Linked DNA regions of Homo sapiens: region 1 is linked to region 2. The links come from fine-mapping of genetic effects on gene expression. A gene starts in region 2. The other region holds a variant in brackets. All regions are shown on one strand. Distances are between the middles of the regions.

Region 1 (8,330 bases), 25 kb after region 2:
TCCTGCTTTTATGAATGACATCATCTTCTTTGCCACCTAAACGTAAAAGCTCAGTGGCACCTTGGTCCCACCCCTACCATACACAGTCTGGCCCGTGGTGTGTGGCCTTCTCCTGACCTCCACAGCCCCCAGCAGGCCTTGCCTCTCCAGCTTGACTTTCCACAGCCTCTTGACTGGGCTGCCTGACTCCAGCTGTGACCTGACCCCAGCCCCAGATGGACTCTTGACCCTAAGTCCAACACCAGCCTTCAGTAGTGTGGCCTCTAACACTTGACTCCTGCACAGACCGACTGAGCCCCACCAGAGACCAACTCCTCCAGAGATCAACCCCACCAGAGACCAACCCCACCAGAGACCAGCCCCACCAGAGACCAAACCCCACCAGAGACCAACCCCACCAGAGACAGACCAACCCCACCAGAGACCAGCCCTACCAGAGACCAACCCCACCAGAGCCCAACCCCACCAGAGACCAACCCCACTAGAGACCAACCCCACCAGAGACCAAACCCCACCAAAGACAGACCAACCGCACTAGAGACAGACCAACCGCACCAGAGACCAGCGCCAGCAGAGCCCAACCCCACCAGAGCCCAACCCCACCAGAGACCAGCCCCGAGACAGACCAACCCCACCAGAGACCAAACCCCACCAGAGACCAACCCCACCAGAGACAGACCAACCCCACCAGAGACAGACCAACCCCACCAGAGACCAACCACACCAGAGACCAGCCCCACCAGAGACCAAACCCCACCAGACGAGACCAACCCCACCAGAGACAGACCAAACCCACCAGAGACAGACCAACCCCACCAGAGACCAGCCCCACCAGAAACCAGCCCCACCAGAGACCAGGACTTAGCCCTTGCCAGGTGTCTCCCAATATCTCTAGGTCCCAGCTTCTAGTCCAGATCAGTGCCTGGCCCATAACCGGCACTTAACAAATATTTGTGGAGTGAATGGATTTTCAAGGGAGGACTCAGTCCCCGTCAGCCGCACTACAGCCATCACAGGTCCAAAGGCTGCACTACTTAGCCACCTGCCAGATGGTATTTGCCCTGGGAGAAGAGTGGGAAGTCCCCGATCTTGAATTGGTTGTAGAACATATGACCCTGGGCAAATTATAACCCTCTCCTGAGCTCCACTGACCCTTCAATAAGACGGTTGTGAGCAGAGCCACTCAGCTCTCTCTCCTGGAAGCCCTGTAACCACAGTCAGGGCCTTTTGTTTCTAAGCATTTCCTTGTCCAGTGTCCCCCCGTGACCTTCACAGCAGCCCATGAGGCACGGGGATGATCTGCCCATCTTGTACAGATCCCCCACGCAGCAGCCCTAGCCACCCTTTCACAGCAAGAGTCAGGAGGCGACTCCTCTGCTCAGAGCCTTCCCACGGCTCCCGGCTTCACTCGGCATAAAGCCAAAGTCCAGTGGGTGGCTGCAGGATCTGGCTGCACACCTCGTGACCTCCCGTCTGTCCCTCCCTCTCCCTTTTCCTCTCAGTCGCTCCACCCCAGCAATGCTGGCCTCCTTGTGGTTCGTCAACCAGGCCGGACACATTCCCACCATGGGACCTCTGCTCTGGCTGTGATTTCTGCCCGGTTGTGGGCTTGGTGAACTTCCTCCCCTCCTTCAGGCCTATGCTCAAATCTCACCTTGTCAATGAGGCCCATCCCAACACCCTATCAAAGACTACAACCTGCCCCCAACCCTGCATCTCCAGAAACAACTTTCCTTTCCTCCATAGCACTTACCACTCTCTAACAAAAGTATAATTTACTGACCTGTCTCCTGCCCCTGGAATGTAAACTCCATACGGATGGGGATACTTGTCTGCCTTGTTCATCCATGTATCCCAAGCTCCTAGAACAGTGCCTGGCATAAAGTATTCAATAAATAACTGCTGAACAAGTGAGAGAAGGGATGATGTATACTTGCCTGGGGCACATATGGAAGGTATAGGACTAGAGCCCAGGCCTGCTCCCTCCACACAAACAGCCCCCTTTCCAGCCCCTTATTCGTGGCCAAGGTGTACTGGGGTCCAAGAGGCCCCACACAAGATGGGTGGGCTGGGCCATGTGGGCTGGTGGGCAGGGCTGGGTGCACACTGCCTGCCTGCTTCTTGAGGCAGCTCATCAGGGACTCAGGGACCAAGAAGGAGAATGGGGAAGGGGAGGTCTCAGGAGACTCCACCTGCCCGGCTCACCCAGGGTGAACTGGTAGGAACTCACACCTCTGGGGCCTGGAGTGTCCAGACCAAAAGAGGGCAGGCATCTTAGAGAGTCACTCAGACTAGCTCAGGGGTGACACCAGGGATGAGACTCCCGAGATGAGACCCCCAGGAAAGTCCAGAGAGGGAGGATGAGGCTCCCTCTGGCTCTGTTGAGCAGCTCCAAATCTCTGAACATGCACAGGGTCCCAGATTCAGAATGAACAGGTTTATGGAAAAGAACATATTGCTGAACTCTCTGACATGTATTGCACGCTGTCTCTATGCCAGCCATGTGTGTATTACTTCACTCAATCCTTTCGCAACCCAATGAGATGGGTTCTATTAGCATGCCCATTTTACAGGTGAGGAAACTGAGGCACAAAGGATTTAAGTAACTTGCTAAAAATCATACATCTGGTAAGTGGTTTGACTTAGAATTTTTTTCCTATGAAAATAGAAAACTGGCAGAGTCTCATGTCTGTAATCCCAGCACTTTGGGAGGCTGAGGTGGGCGGATCACTTGAGGTCAAGAGTTCAAGACCAGCCTGGCCAACATGGTGAAACTCCATCTCTATGGAAAAAAAAAAATTATCCAGGCATGGTGGTGGGCACCTATAATCCCAGATACTTGGGAGGCTGAGGCAATAGAATCACTTGAACCCGGGAGGCGGAGGTTGCAGTGAGCCAAGATCACGCCACTGCACTCCAGCCTGGGTGACAGAGCAAGACTCCATAAAACAAAACAAAAACAAAACAAAACAAAACAAAAAAACACAAAACTGAAAAACAAAATAGAAAACTTCTCATAAAGTACTGAGACATTTTGATGAGGATTAAAACACACATTATGGGCCAGGCATGGGGGACCATAATGTAATCCCAGCATGTTGGGAGGCTGAGATGGGCAGATCACCTGAGGTCAGGAGTTCAAGACCAGCCTGACCAACATGGAGAAACCCATCTCTACTAAAAATACAAAATTAGCTGGGCGGGGGCGGCGCATGCCTGTAATCCCAGCTACAGGCTGGGAGGCTGAGGCAGGAGAATCGCTTGAACCCAGGAGGCAGAGGTTGCGGCGAGCCGAGATCGCGCCATTGCACTCCAGCCTGGGCAACAAGAGCGAAACTCTCTCTCAAAAAAAAAAAACCACACACACATTATGTGCCTATGCTGTAAAAGAGCCCATTGTCCCCCAGTTGTCAATATAACCACAATGGGAATGAACAATGTCTTCTTGGCAGTGAGGACAATTCCTGTACAAAGGAAACTGAGTTTGTACATAATTGACTTAAAATTTTTTCTAACCATTTATTAAGAAAAAATTTAACATACAGAAAAATTGATCAGATACCCACCACTTAGCTTCAACTACTATCAATTTCACTTCTCTCTCTGTGTTTTATTTTATTATTTTGTTTTATTTTTTTTTTTGGAGACAGGGTCTTCTCCTGTCACCAAGGCTGAATGAAATGCAGTGGCACAACACAGCTCACTGCAGCCTCAATCTCCTGGGCTAAGTGATCCTCCCACCTCAGCCTCCCAAGTAGCTGGGACCACAGGTACATGCCACCATGCCCGGTGAATTTTTTATTTTCATTTTTTCTTTTTTCTTTCTTTTTTTTTTTTTTTTTTTAACATTTTTTGTAGAGATGGGGTCTTTCCATGTTGCCCAGGCTTGTCTTGAACTCCTAGGCTCAAGGGATCCTCCCATCTTAGCCTTCCAAAGGGTTGTAACTACAGATGTGAGCCACTGTGTCTGACCTCTTACTTTTAATTTTATTTATTATTATTTTTTGAGACACGGTCTCACTTTGTCACCCAGGCTGGAGTGCAGTGGCATGATCTTGGCTCACTGCAGCCTTGACTTCCTGGGATCAAGCAATTCTTCTGCCTCAGTTCCCCAAGGAGCTGGGACTACAGGCACGTGCTACCACATCTGGCTTATTTTTTGTAGAGATGATGTTTCACCATGTGGCGCAGGCTGGTCTCAAGCTCCTGAGCTCAAGTGATCTGCCTGCCTTGATCTCCCAAAGTGCTAGAATTACAGCATGAACCACCATGCCTAGGTCTTTATTTTTAGTTTTTTGAAACAGGGTCTCTGTTACCCAGGCTGGAGTGCAGTAGTGTGATCACGGCTCACTGCAGCCTCCATCTCCTGGGCTCAAGCCATCCTCCCATCTCAGCCTCTTGAGTAGCTGGGACTACAGTTGTTTGCCACCAGG[C/T]CTAGATAATAAAAAAAAAATTTTGTGGAGATGGAGTCTCACTATGTTGCCCAGGCTGGTCTTGAACTCCTAGGCTCAAGCAATCCTTCTGCCTTGGGCTCCCCATGTGCTGGGATTACAAATGTGAGCCACTGCATCTGGCCTTTATTTCTATTTTTGAGAGAGAGTTTTGCTCTGTCACCCAGGCTGGAGTGCCATGGCATGAACACAGCTCACTGCAACCTCGAACTCCTGGGCTCCAGCGATCCTCCTGCCTCAGCCTCCTGAGTAGCTAGGACTACAGGCACGCACTACTATGCCTGGCTAATTAAAAAAAAAAATTTAAGAGGCAAGGTCTCTCTATATTGCCTAGACTAGTCTTAAACTCCTGGCCTCAAGCTGCCTTCCCAAGCAATCCTCCCACCTCAGCTTCCGAAAGTGTTGAAATTACAGGTATGAGCCACCACACCCGGCCACTCTCTCTCTCTTCTCTAAACAATGTGAAAATAAGTTCAAACATCATGTCATGTTACCTCCAAGTACTTCAGCCTCATCTCCTAAAAAAATTCTCCTACCAGACTAAAACTTCATTATCATACCTAAGAAGATCAATAACAATTTCCAAATGTCCATCTGATATTCAAATTTCCCTGCTTTTAAAAAAATCTTTACGGCCGGGCGCGGCGGCTCAAGCCTGTAGTCCCAGCACTTTGGGAGGCCGAGGCGGGCGGATCATGAGGTCAGGAGATCGAGACCATCCTGGCTAACACGGTGAAACCCTGTGTCTACTAAAAATACAAAAATTAGCCGGGCGTAGTGGCGGGCGCCTGTAGTCCCAGCTGCTCGGGAGGCTGAGGCAGGAGAATGGCGTGAACCTGGGAGGCGGAGCTTGCAGTGAGCTGAGATTGCGCCACTGCACTCCAGCCTGGGCGACAGAGCCAGACTCCGTCTCAAAAAAAAAAAAAAAATCTTTTATACTTGTTTTTTTCAAATCGTACATCTTACAAAGATTTACAAATTGCATTTGGTTTATTGTTTTTTAAATCCTTTAAAATACAGATCCCCATGTATCTACACACATACACCTTTTTTTGTGACATTGATTCTTTGGAGAATGCAGGTGTTATCTTTTTTTTTTGGAGACGGAGTCTCGCTCTGTCACCGAGGCTGGAGTGCAGTGGCGCGATCTCGGCTCACTGCAACCTCACCTCTCGGGTTCAAGCAACTCTCCTGCCTCAGTCTCCTGAGTAGCTGGGACTACAGGTGCACACTGCCATGCCCGGCTAATTTTTTGTATTTTAGTAGGGACGGGGTTTCACTGTGTTGCCCAGGCTGGTCTCGAACTCCTGAGCTCAGGCAATCCGCCCACCTCGGCCTCCCAAAGTGCTAGGATTACAGGCGTGAGCCGCCGTGCCTGGCAGCAGGTGTTATCTTATAGGCTGTCCCTGGATATATCTGATTGTTTCTTCATGGTGTTATTTAACTTGTTCTTCTACCCCCTGTATTGACTCTAAACTGGAGTTTAGGTCCAAAGCCAGATTCAGGCTGGGCGTTGTGGCTCACGTCGGCAATCCCAGAACTTTGGGAGGTCAAGGTGGTAGGATCATGAGGTCAACAGTTTGAGACCAGCCCGGGCAACATGGCGAGACCCTGTCTCTATTAAAAATACCCACCACCCCCCCAAAAAAAAAGCCAGGTGTGGCTCTGCATGCCTGTGCTCCCAGCTACTTGGGAGGCTGAGGTGGGAGGATTGCTTGAGCCAGGGAGGCAAGGAGGTTGCAGTAAGCCAAGATTACCCCACTGCACTTCAGCCTGGGTGACAGAGTGAGACTCTGTCTCAGAAAAAAAAAAAAAAGGCAGATTCAGGTTAACAATCTTTAGTAAAGATACTGCCCAGCTCATGCTGAGTATTATTATTATTATATCCCATCCAGAGACACATGTCAGATTGTTCCACTATTGATGATGCTAAATTTGATCACTTGTCTGAGGTGGTGACAGCAAGACTGCACCATTTTTTACTACTGTAAAACACCTCTCCCCTTTGGCAACCAGCAAGAGGCTTCAGGTGGACTCTTTGGCATGTGACTGTTCTGTCCTCCCCCAGCCTTTCATCCCAGGGTTCTGACTCCCTGGATAATCCTGTCAATTATTATACGATCAATTATTGATCAATTATTTTACGAAGGGTTACAACAAGATGATTTTCTATTTCTGTCTTTTCTTCTGCAGAAATGCAAGAAGCTTGCACTCTTCTGTAAAGAAGAGTTTTTTTCTCATCAACTGGGATTGAACTACAGCTCCTTCTAAAGAGGCAGGACAAATTATTATTACTATTATTATTATTATTTTGAGATAGGGTCTCTTGCTCGGTTGCCTAGTCTGGAGTGTGATGATGCAATCACAGCTCACTGCAGCCTCAACCTCCTGGGCTCAAGCCATCCTCCCACCTTAACCTCCCAAGTAGCTGGCACTACATGTGTACACCACCACGCTTTTGCTAATTTTTAAATTTTTTGTAGAGACAGGGTTCTTATGTTGCCCAGGCTGGTCTTGAACTCCTGGGCTCAAGCAATCCTCTCGCCTCAGCCTCCTGAAGTGCTGGAATTACAGGTATGAACCACCAGGCCTGGCCAAATTATTCTTATTGAGGCTGGCATTGTTCCGTATCTGGCTGGCGGTGCCCCTTCAAGTTGGCTCCTGGGTCCTTCTTTCAAGCCCCAGGAGTCTTTGAGAACTTCTTGGCTTTCTGGAAAGAAAAAAACAGAGATGTCTCAGCATCACCTGCATTCCCCCATCTCCAGCCCTGAAACCAGCCATTTGGAAGCTGGGATGTGGCCCCAGGCAGTCTGCCTCAAGTTCTTTTGTTTTTCACACTCATGCAAACTGCAGAACAGTTCCAGTTCTGGGGACCTTGCTGTGTGACCTTGGGCCAGTTCCTTTCCCCTCTCTAAGTCATACTTTCTCTGTATGAAACTCTGTGGAGCTGGGTTCCACCTTACTCCATCTCCCCATCAGGGTGTGGCATCCAAGCTCCACTGCTTCCTGTTACTCTGTCTCCCTCCTCCTGTGGTCAGGGGTAGGTGGGACAAGGCTCCTTCCCTGGGCGGTGGAGCCTGTGTGACAAGTGAGAAACTGGGACTTCTTACCCTGTAAGGAAAGATGCAGGGAGCCATTGTCCACGCCCTCTGGGAAACTCAGTCTTGGGACCCTCCCTCTTGGCTGGCATCAGTCTCTAACCTCCAAGGGCACGGGCAGGATGACCGTGGGATTTCCCTCAGCTGTGTCCTGAAACTGCTGCACAGAGAAAAGAGTTCGGACTGCCATTCTATCACCATTGGTTTAGAATCTAGTGACTGTGATGCATTATTCCCTTTATTTTAAATTTAGGCTGGGCGCGGTGGCTCACGCCTATAATCGCAGCACTTTGAGAGGCCGAGGTGGGCAGGTCATTTGAGGTCAGGAGTTGGAGACCAGCCTGACCAACATCGTGAAACCCCGTCTCTATGAAAATACAAAAATTAGCCGGGCATGGTGGTAGGCACCTGTAATCCCACCTACTCAGGAGGCTGAGGCAAGAGAATCGCTTGAACTCAGGAGGCAGAGGTTGCAGGGAGCTGAGATCACGCCACTGCACTCCAGCCTGGTGACACAGTGAGACTCCGTCACACACACACACACACACACACACACACACACACACCCCAAAACAAAAAAAACTATAAATTTAGTTTTACCTTGTATTGAAGTTGTAAATTCACATAGTCTAAAGAATCAGGCCGGGTGCAGTAGCTCACGCCTGTAATCCCAGCACATTGGGAGGCTGAGGCGGGCAGATCACCTGAGGTCAGGAGTTCAAGACCAGCCTGGTCAACATGGTGAAACCCTGTCTCTATTATAAACACAAAAAAATTAGCC
Region 2 (8,330 bases):
CCTCTGCCTAGGAAAGCCAGATATTGTCCAAGTTCTCCCCATGTGATAGTCTGAAATATGGCCTTGTGGGAAGGGAAAGACCTGACCGTCCCCCAGCCTGATACCCGTAAAGGGTCTGTGCTGAGGAGGATTAGTAAAAGAGGAAGGCCTCTTTGCAGTTGAGGTAAGAGGAAGGCATCTGTTTCCTGCTCGTCCCTGGGCAATGGAATGTCTCGTTGTAAAACGCAATTGTATATTTCATCTACTGAGATAGGAGAAAACCGCCTTAGGGCTGGAGGTGAGACATGCTGGCGGCAATACTGCTCTTTAATGCACCGAGATGTTTATGTATGTGCACATCAAAGCACAGCACCTTTTTCTTAACCTTGTTTATGACACAGAGACATTTGTTCACACGTTTTCCTGCTGACCCTCTCCCCACTATTACCCTATTGTCCTGCCACATCCCTCTCTCCAAGATGGTAGAGATAATGATCAATAAATACTGAAGGAACTCAGAGACCGGTGTCATCGTGGGCCCTCCATATGCTGAGCGCCAGTCCCCTGGCACTCTTTCTCTATACTTTGTCTCTGTGTCTCTTTCTTTTCTCAGTCTCTCATCCCACCTGACGAGAAACACCCACAGGTGTGGAGGGGCAGGCCACCCCTTCACCACCTCACAGCTCTGCTCAAATCACTCCTCAGCAAGGCTGCCTGGCCCTCTCTGTTTAATTCAGCCACCCACCCCACCCCTTTCCTCAGACCTTCAGTACCCTTCGCCCAGCCTGACTTTTTCTTTCTTCTTCTTCTTCTTTTTTTTTCTTTGAGATGGAGTTTCACTCTTGTCGCCCAGGCTGGAGTGCAACAGCGCGGTCTCAGCTCACTGCAACCTCTGCCTCCCAGGTTCAAGCTATTCTCGTGCTTCAGCCTCCCAAGTAGCTGGGATTACAGGCACCTGCCACCACCCCCAGCTAATTTTTGTATGTTTAGTAGCGACGGGGTTTCACCATGTTGGCCAGGTTGGTCTCAAACTCCTGACCTCAGGTGATCTGCCCACCTGAGCCATGCAAGGTGCTGGGATTACAGGTGTGAGCCACCACACCTGGCCAACTTTTTCTTCTTTCCACAGGACTGACCACTTTCTAACAAAATAGGAAGCTTACATAGACATTATGTCTGCTCTTCCTTCCAGAATGTAGACTTTGAGAGGGTAGGGACCATTGTTTTTGTCACTGATGTATCCCAAGTATTTACAATGTCAGACACATCCTAGGTGCTCAGTGAGTGCTCCCTGAGTGAGTGTGTGAGCTCTGAGAGGGGAGGGTAAGTACACCCCTGTGCTGGCAGTGTTGACAGCGCAGGGGTGCGGTGGGGTGGGGAACGCAGACATGGCAACAGTGAGGTGAGGCCCCACGGAAAGTGGCTGTGCTGCCCCTCCAGCCTCAGCCCCCATTCCTCTTCCCTTATTCACAACACCCCAGTACTACTGGCCATTTTTTAATTCCTTGAGTTCTCCAAACACCTACCCACTTCAGGGCCTTTGCATATTCTATTCTCCCTGCCCAGACCATTCTTCACACCTTCACGTAGCTAATTCCTACTCTACTTTCAAGTCTCAGTTCAAATGCCATGATTGTATCTCAGTGCCTGACAAAGAGTAAGCGTCCAATAAAGGTACAGGTTTTTGGCTGGGTGCGGTGGCTCATGCCTGTAATCCTAGCACTTTGGGAGGCCGAGGCTGGTGGATCACCTGAGGTCAGGAGTTCAAGATCAGCCTGGACAACATGGTGAAACCCCGTCTCTACTAAAAATACAAAAAATTAGCCAGGTGTGGTGAAGGGCGCCTGTAATCCCAACTACTTGGGAGGCTGAGGCAGGAGAATTGCTCGAACCCGGGAGGAGGAGGTTGTGGTGAGCTGAGATCGTGCGACTGCACTCCAGCCTGGGCGACAGAGTGAGACTCTGTCTCAAAACACAAAAGATACAGGTTTTCATTACACATTTTAAAAATATATATATTGGGTCTCACTATCGCCCAGGCTGGAGTGCAGTGGTGTGATCACAGCTCACTGCAGCCTTCACCTCCCAGGATCAGGTGATCCTCCCAAGTAGCTGGGATTATAGGTGCAGGTCACCATACCTGGTTAATTTTTCTATTTGTTGTAGAGAAGGTGTTTCACCATGTTGCCCAGACTGGTCTCCAACTCCTGAGCTCAAGTGATCCTCCTGCCTCAGTCTCCCACAGTGTTGGAATTATAGGCGTGAGCCACTGAGCCCTGAAGTTTTCAACATACATTTAAAAATGTACTATTATCGGCCAGGCGCGGTGGCTCACATCTGTAATCTCAGCACTTTGGAAGACCGCGGGGGCTGGATCACCTGAGGTCAGGAGTTCGAAATCAGCCTGGGCCAACATGGTGAAACCCCGTCTCTACTAAAAATACAAAAAAAAAAAAAAAAAACTACCCGGGTGTGGTGGTGTGTGCCTGTAGTCCCAGCTACTAGGGAGGCTGAGGCAGGGGAAGGCAACAGTGAGACTCTGTCTCAAAAAAAAAAAAAAAAATGAATAAAAATAAAAATATGCTATTATCATCCCATTTCACAGATGAGAAAACTGAAGCCCAGAGAGGTTACAATTTTTGCCCAAAGAACCATAGCTAATAACTGCAGAAACAATAAATATGTTGATTAAATAAAGTGGAGTTTGAAAGCAGTGACTTTGATGGTTTCTGGGATAAAGATAGGCTTCCCTGTGGAAAAATTTGTCCTGAGGTGATTGTGTGGGCTGCCTTCAGCCATAAGATCAAGGCTTGCTCCCTCCATGAAGCCACATGAGGTTTGGAGGTCTGTTTAATACAACTCTTAATCAAAGCGGAACTCACTCCACAATACTCCAGTCTCTGCTAACATACTGGGAAGCTCATTAAAACAAAAAAGCCCTCTCCTTCAAAAAATACAGACATTTCACAGAAGAGATGCAAATGGTTAAAACAATCCGTAAAGAGATGTCTGACGTCACTCATCATCGAAGAAATGCAATGCAACGAGAAGGTATGTTGAGGCTGGGTGCATTGGCTCACGCCTATAATGCCAGCCCTTTGGGAGACCGAGGCGGGTGGATCACCTGAGGCAGGAGTTCGAGACCAGCCTGGACAACATGGTGAAACCCCGTCTCTACTAAAAATACAAAAATTAGCCGGGTGTGGTGGCGCACACCTGTAATCCCAGCTACTCGGGAGATGAGGCAGGAGAATCACTTGAACCCAGGAGGCGGAGCTTGCAGTGAGCCAAGATGGCGTCACTGCACTCCAGCCTGGGCAACAAGAGCCAGACTCCGTCTCAAAAAAAAAAAGAAGGTATGTTGAGTTTTTCAGTTTAGCAGAATAAATTTTTTTTTTTTTTGAGACAGGGTCTCGCTGTGTCACCCAGGCTGGAGCCACGGGATATATTTATATATTTAAAATATATTTATAATATTTATATAGTATGTAATACAAAAATACTATATATATTCCATATAAATATTACATATAGTACATAGATAAAATGTATCTACCGCTTGCCTAGCTCTGTGAGGTACACTTCTTGGCCCTTCCCCACAGCTCCGACATATTCTCCCAAGCCTTCAAGGTCCTTCAATATTGTTATTAGAGGCTGGGCACGGTGGCTCACGCCTGTAATCCCAGCACTTTGGGAGGCCGAGGCAGGTGGATCACGAGGTCAGAAAATCCAGACCACCCTAGTCAACACGGTAAAACCCCGTCTCTACTAATACACACACACAAAAAATTTGTCGGGCGTGGTGGCACGCGCCTGTAGTCCCAGCTACTTGGGAGGCTGAGGCAGAATAGCTTGAACCTGGGAGGCAGAGGTTGCGGTCAGCCGAGATTGCGCCACTGCACTCCAGCCTTGGCTACAGAACAAGATTCGGTCGAAATATATACATGTATATTGTTATTAGAGGGCTATGTGGAAGTAGCTATTAAACACGAGGGCTTTGAAGCTAGAATTCCAAACCCTTCTGCAAAGGTGTGCTCTCAGTTAACATCCTTTATCTGTAAGAGGGAAATCAAAATTATTTGATAATGTCTTGAGGAGTAAATGAAGCAATGCATATAAACTGTTTAGCCCAGACCGGTCTGAAAATACATATTGAATAATTTATTCTTATTTTGCCCATTATATAATATGCCAAAGTAAGTGATTACGGTGTGTTTTCCCCGACTATGTTGCCTAGGCTGGCCTCGAACTACTTGGACGAAGCGATCCTCAGCCTCCTGAGTAACTGGGACCACAGGCCGGCGCCACCCTAGCTTTAATTAAGGCCGTTTTGTTGTTGTTATTCCCCTGCTCCACACAAGGGGCGCTGCCGCTCCAAGGCTGCCAGGGCGGGAGTCAGGATGGCGGAAGTCTGTCTAGCCACGACCACCGCCATCATGGAATACAGGCCCACCTCACCCCGCGGGTGTAGCCGCTTCGTACTGTCGCTTAGGCCGACCCGCTCGCAGCGACAACCAGCCCTCTACCTCTTTTCGCTCTCCCTTAAGTAATAAACCGTCTTTCCTTATGACGAGTCTTAAACTCTTTGGGAGGAATAATGCCGGCGTCTTCCGGAACCCGACCTCGCCCCGTGACCTCAGAGGTATACTTCCGGGACACGGAAGTGACCCCCGTCGCTCCGCCCCCTCCCACTCTCTCTTTCCGGTGTGGAGTCTGGAGACGACGTGCAGGTAGGAGGCCCGGGCGCGACAATCGGGGGGCATCCTGCGGCGAGGGGACCCTGTGGGGCTTGGGACGAGAGACGGGGGTCTTTCCGTGGGAACCGAGCTAGGTGCCGGGCAAGAGACGCGCGGCTGGCCCACCTGGATCCTGGCCAACTCGGGATTGAGTTCGTTCCTGGTCTCAGAAGGCCCGTTTTGCTTTCAGGGAGGAGCTTGTGAAGTAAGGGTGAGTGCGGGTCCAGCCTTTTAAGGCCTCGGCCCCGCAATACGGCCACGGCCACGGCCGCGTTTGAGCTGCACAGCGTAGTTGAGGGAACCCGGGACAGACGTGGGCTCCCGCCTCTACCTCGCCAAACTTTTTTCTTGGTGATCGCAGGCCCACGCCTAATCTCGTTTGTTTCCTCGTTTGCAAAATAGGAATAACAATAGCACCGATCCCATGGGTTTGTAGTGATCATTCAAAGAAGGAAAGCAGGGAAAACTCTCGCACTATGTTGGATGCTTCTAAATCTGGGCGATTCTTTCCGTTGCTGAGTCGGGCACGTTGCAAGTTCTGGGCGCTCAGGGCCCAGCACCAATGTTTGCTGTGCGCTTGCCCTGCGTTTATATACTCCTGATGACCACTCTGCTCGTTACTTTAGGGGATGTTAGGAACGGAGAAACTGCAAATTGGCATTTACTGAATGGCCATCATGCCGAAACATACTCATGCTTACGTATTTGAGATATGCTGGAGCCTTTCTATGCTTCTCGAGGCAGAACTTTGGGCTTCTCTCCTGTGGCGCGTTCCTTACAATAGTTAACGCACTGGGTCGTGCTCATTGGTCTGATTTGAAGATAGGAACATTTAACTTCGTACACCCAAGACTTACACTTGAAGTACTTACTGTGGTCACACACTTAACTAAAGTTTATATAGGGAAGGCAGAGGAGAGATCTAGGAACACCTGAGACAGACTAGGGTAGTTATTTGTGGTGTAGAGGCATCTTGGCAGGAGGCAGAGAGTGCTGGGCTGGGAGTCAGGACACGTTGTTTCTATGTTTGGTTTTGCCACTGTCTTTACTGTGACCATAGGCTGAGACACTCTCTATCTTCACCATCTGCAGGATATCGATTAGTGTTAGTGTCTTCTGAAAATGTTAAATTGTTCTGAACACCAGGAGGTTCAGAAGGCCTGGGGCTTTAGGCCGGAAGCAGTCTTATCCTAGCCTTCCACTTTCTCATTCATTCTCACCCGCCTTCCTCCTGTCAGTTTCTCTCTCCCTTAGATCTTGTGACAGTATGATTGCAATTATTATGAAGGTCATAATAGGTTAGAGTTATTTAGTCTCAGGACCCATCAGATTTCTGAGATGGGTCTTTTCCATTAGCCTGCCTTTTGGATATATTTTAGTGCCTTTGATATTTGATGTTGGTGACAAAGATTTAGTTCTAAATAGTTGTGGGAGTCAAATCAGTTGCATTTTTGAACATTTTGAAGGGATCAGGTGGAGCACAGGAAAACAGGAGATGAGAGGCTTGAGGGCTGTGTTGGTAAGGGTCCCTTGAATTCTAAGCTGAGGAGTTCATGCAGGAATCAAGCAGCTCCCTCGCCCCATGAAGGGTGTTAGGAATGGTACCAGTACATGGGTAGCTGTTGGTCTTGGGTTTCTTCTTGCCTTTTGGGGTGCAGCCTTCAGGCATCTGCTGCTAGATCCCTAGGCTTCTATCTTGTAGGTGCTGTGAGCTGAGCTGTTGGTAGTTTCTGGGGAAAGGATACTTCTCATGGTACTTTGCCATGTGGCCACAGTTGATACCCCCCCAAGTGCAAGGAGAAAGAAGTTTTAGTGAGGCAGAAATGAGAGAATACAGTAGAGTATTGGATGGAAGAAGACAGGGACATGAAGCAGGACTAGGGTTTCATTTAATAGCCAGGGGAAAGGGATTCTGGAAATGTTTTGTCTGTTAACCTTGAGTTTCTTTTCCTTCCACTCAGAAATGGCACCTCGAAAGGGGAAGGAAAAGAAGGAAGAACAGGTCATCAGCCTCGGACCTCAGGTGGCTGAAGGAGAGAATGTATTTGGTGTCTGCCATATCTTTGCATCCTTCAATGACACTTTTGTCCATGTCACTGATCTTTCTGGCAAGTGAGTACCTGGGTGGAGAGGCATCCAGCTGGCAAAAGGCTGAGGAAGGCAATGGCTGGGACGGGCTAGCAGTTCAGGGGATTCTCTCTAAAGAAATGCTGTTTTGTCCAGGTAAGAAAATGTGCTTGTCCATTTAGCCCACAAATATTGTGATTTCCCAGGGGTTACAAGAGAGGAGACACATTCTTCGTCCTTACAGCGTGATGGTCATTGAATCCTTGGTTTCTTGGGAATTATCTTCTTTCCCTAGTTCCCTTTGCAGGAGCAGCAGTGGACTGCAAGTGGGCTCTGGGTGCGGGTTCGACGGCCATTTAGCAAGTTGTGACTTGTGTGAAATCACTCAGATTCTGAGTTTTGGTTTCCTCATATGTAAAATTAGGACAGTAATGTCTACCTTGTGGAGTAATGGTAAGGATTAAATGCAAAAGTAGATATATAAAATGTTAATACTGAGTATAGCTATATTGGGCCATTCAACCCCACTGGACTGAACTCCATGAGGGCAGAGCCCATGACCATCATCCTCCACCATGACTGAGCTGTGTTGCTCTTCACTCATTAGGATATCGTAAGCACTCCTTGTTGGACGAGGAAGAAATGACCCTGTGCTTTTGTCCCCAGGGAAACCATCTGCCGTGTGACTGGTGGGATGAAGGTAAAGGCAGACCGAGATGAATCCTCACCATATGCTGCTATGTTGGCTGCCCAGGATGTGGCCCAGAGGTGCAAGGAGCTGGGTATCACCGCCCTACACATCAAACTCCGGGCCACAGGAGGAAATAGGTACGAGTCGCAGAGGGGATGGCTGGGTGGTAGAAAACCTGCTGGGCTTGGGTGCTGGAGCACCTGGATTTGAGGTTTGGGTTTTTTGTTGTGACCTTGAACAAGATATTTTAGGCATATACATACTTAATAATTGGCTCCTGTGTACACCCCCCAGCAGCTCAGTGTTGAGCACCCACTGTATACTAGGAGCTGTGTTTCAGGTACTAGAAGAGAGTGATGGGGAAACAGACATGGTCTCTACCCTCCTTGTGTGGGACCGAGGCTGGTGGGAGAGTCAGACTTTAAACAACAGAGCACCAGGGAGTATGTGGTTTTCATTTGTGACAAATGCCAGGAAGCACAAGTAAGGAGTTGGTGATAAAGTGTAATTTAAACTAGGGTCTAAATGATAAGTCCGGAGTCCTTCCAGTGAAATAAGGACAGGAGGAGGGTATTCCAGCTAGAGACAACTGCAGGGAAAGGTCTTGAGGTGGGGGTGAACCTGGGCACCTGTGAAGGAAAGAGTGGCATGAGGTGCAGTCAGAGGGGAAGAGGTGGAGTCCTGTAGGAGAGGGGAAGGACCTGGATTTGAGTGATGGGGGCATGAAAGCTGAAATAGATGACTGTTGCGTGAACAAGCCAGACAGTGGTCAGAACATAACAACAAACCATAGTGGCCCCCTCAGCCTAAAATATTTACTGTCTGGCTTTTTTTTTTTTCCTCTTTTTTGAGACAGG

The links. PIP is the estimated chance that this variant, and not a neighbour inherited with it, causes the effect.
Region 1: its variant is fine-mapped to the expression of RPS14 in whole blood (TOPMed, PIP above 0.99).

The regions. Positions count from the first base shown.
Region 1 is chr5:150,421,438-150,429,767 of GRCh38, reverse strand. LOC124901106 (a long non-coding RNA gene) reads right to left here and starts at 7,709. Exons shown (of 2, transcript XR_007058994.1): 1 at 7,562-7,709; 2 at 5,423-7,161. RefSeq lists enhancers at 261-310, 949-1,448, 1,449-1,950. The variant C/T (reference allele first, on the strand shown) is at 4,434.
Region 2 is chr5:150,446,082-150,454,411 of GRCh38, reverse strand. RPS14 (ribosomal protein S14) reads left to right here and starts at 4,673. Exons shown (of 5, transcript NM_005617.4): 1 at 4,673-4,709; 2 at 6,677-6,827; 3 at 7,449-7,610. The coding sequence starts at 6,679. RefSeq lists a silencer at 70-270 and enhancers at 4,285-4,604, 4,218-5,156.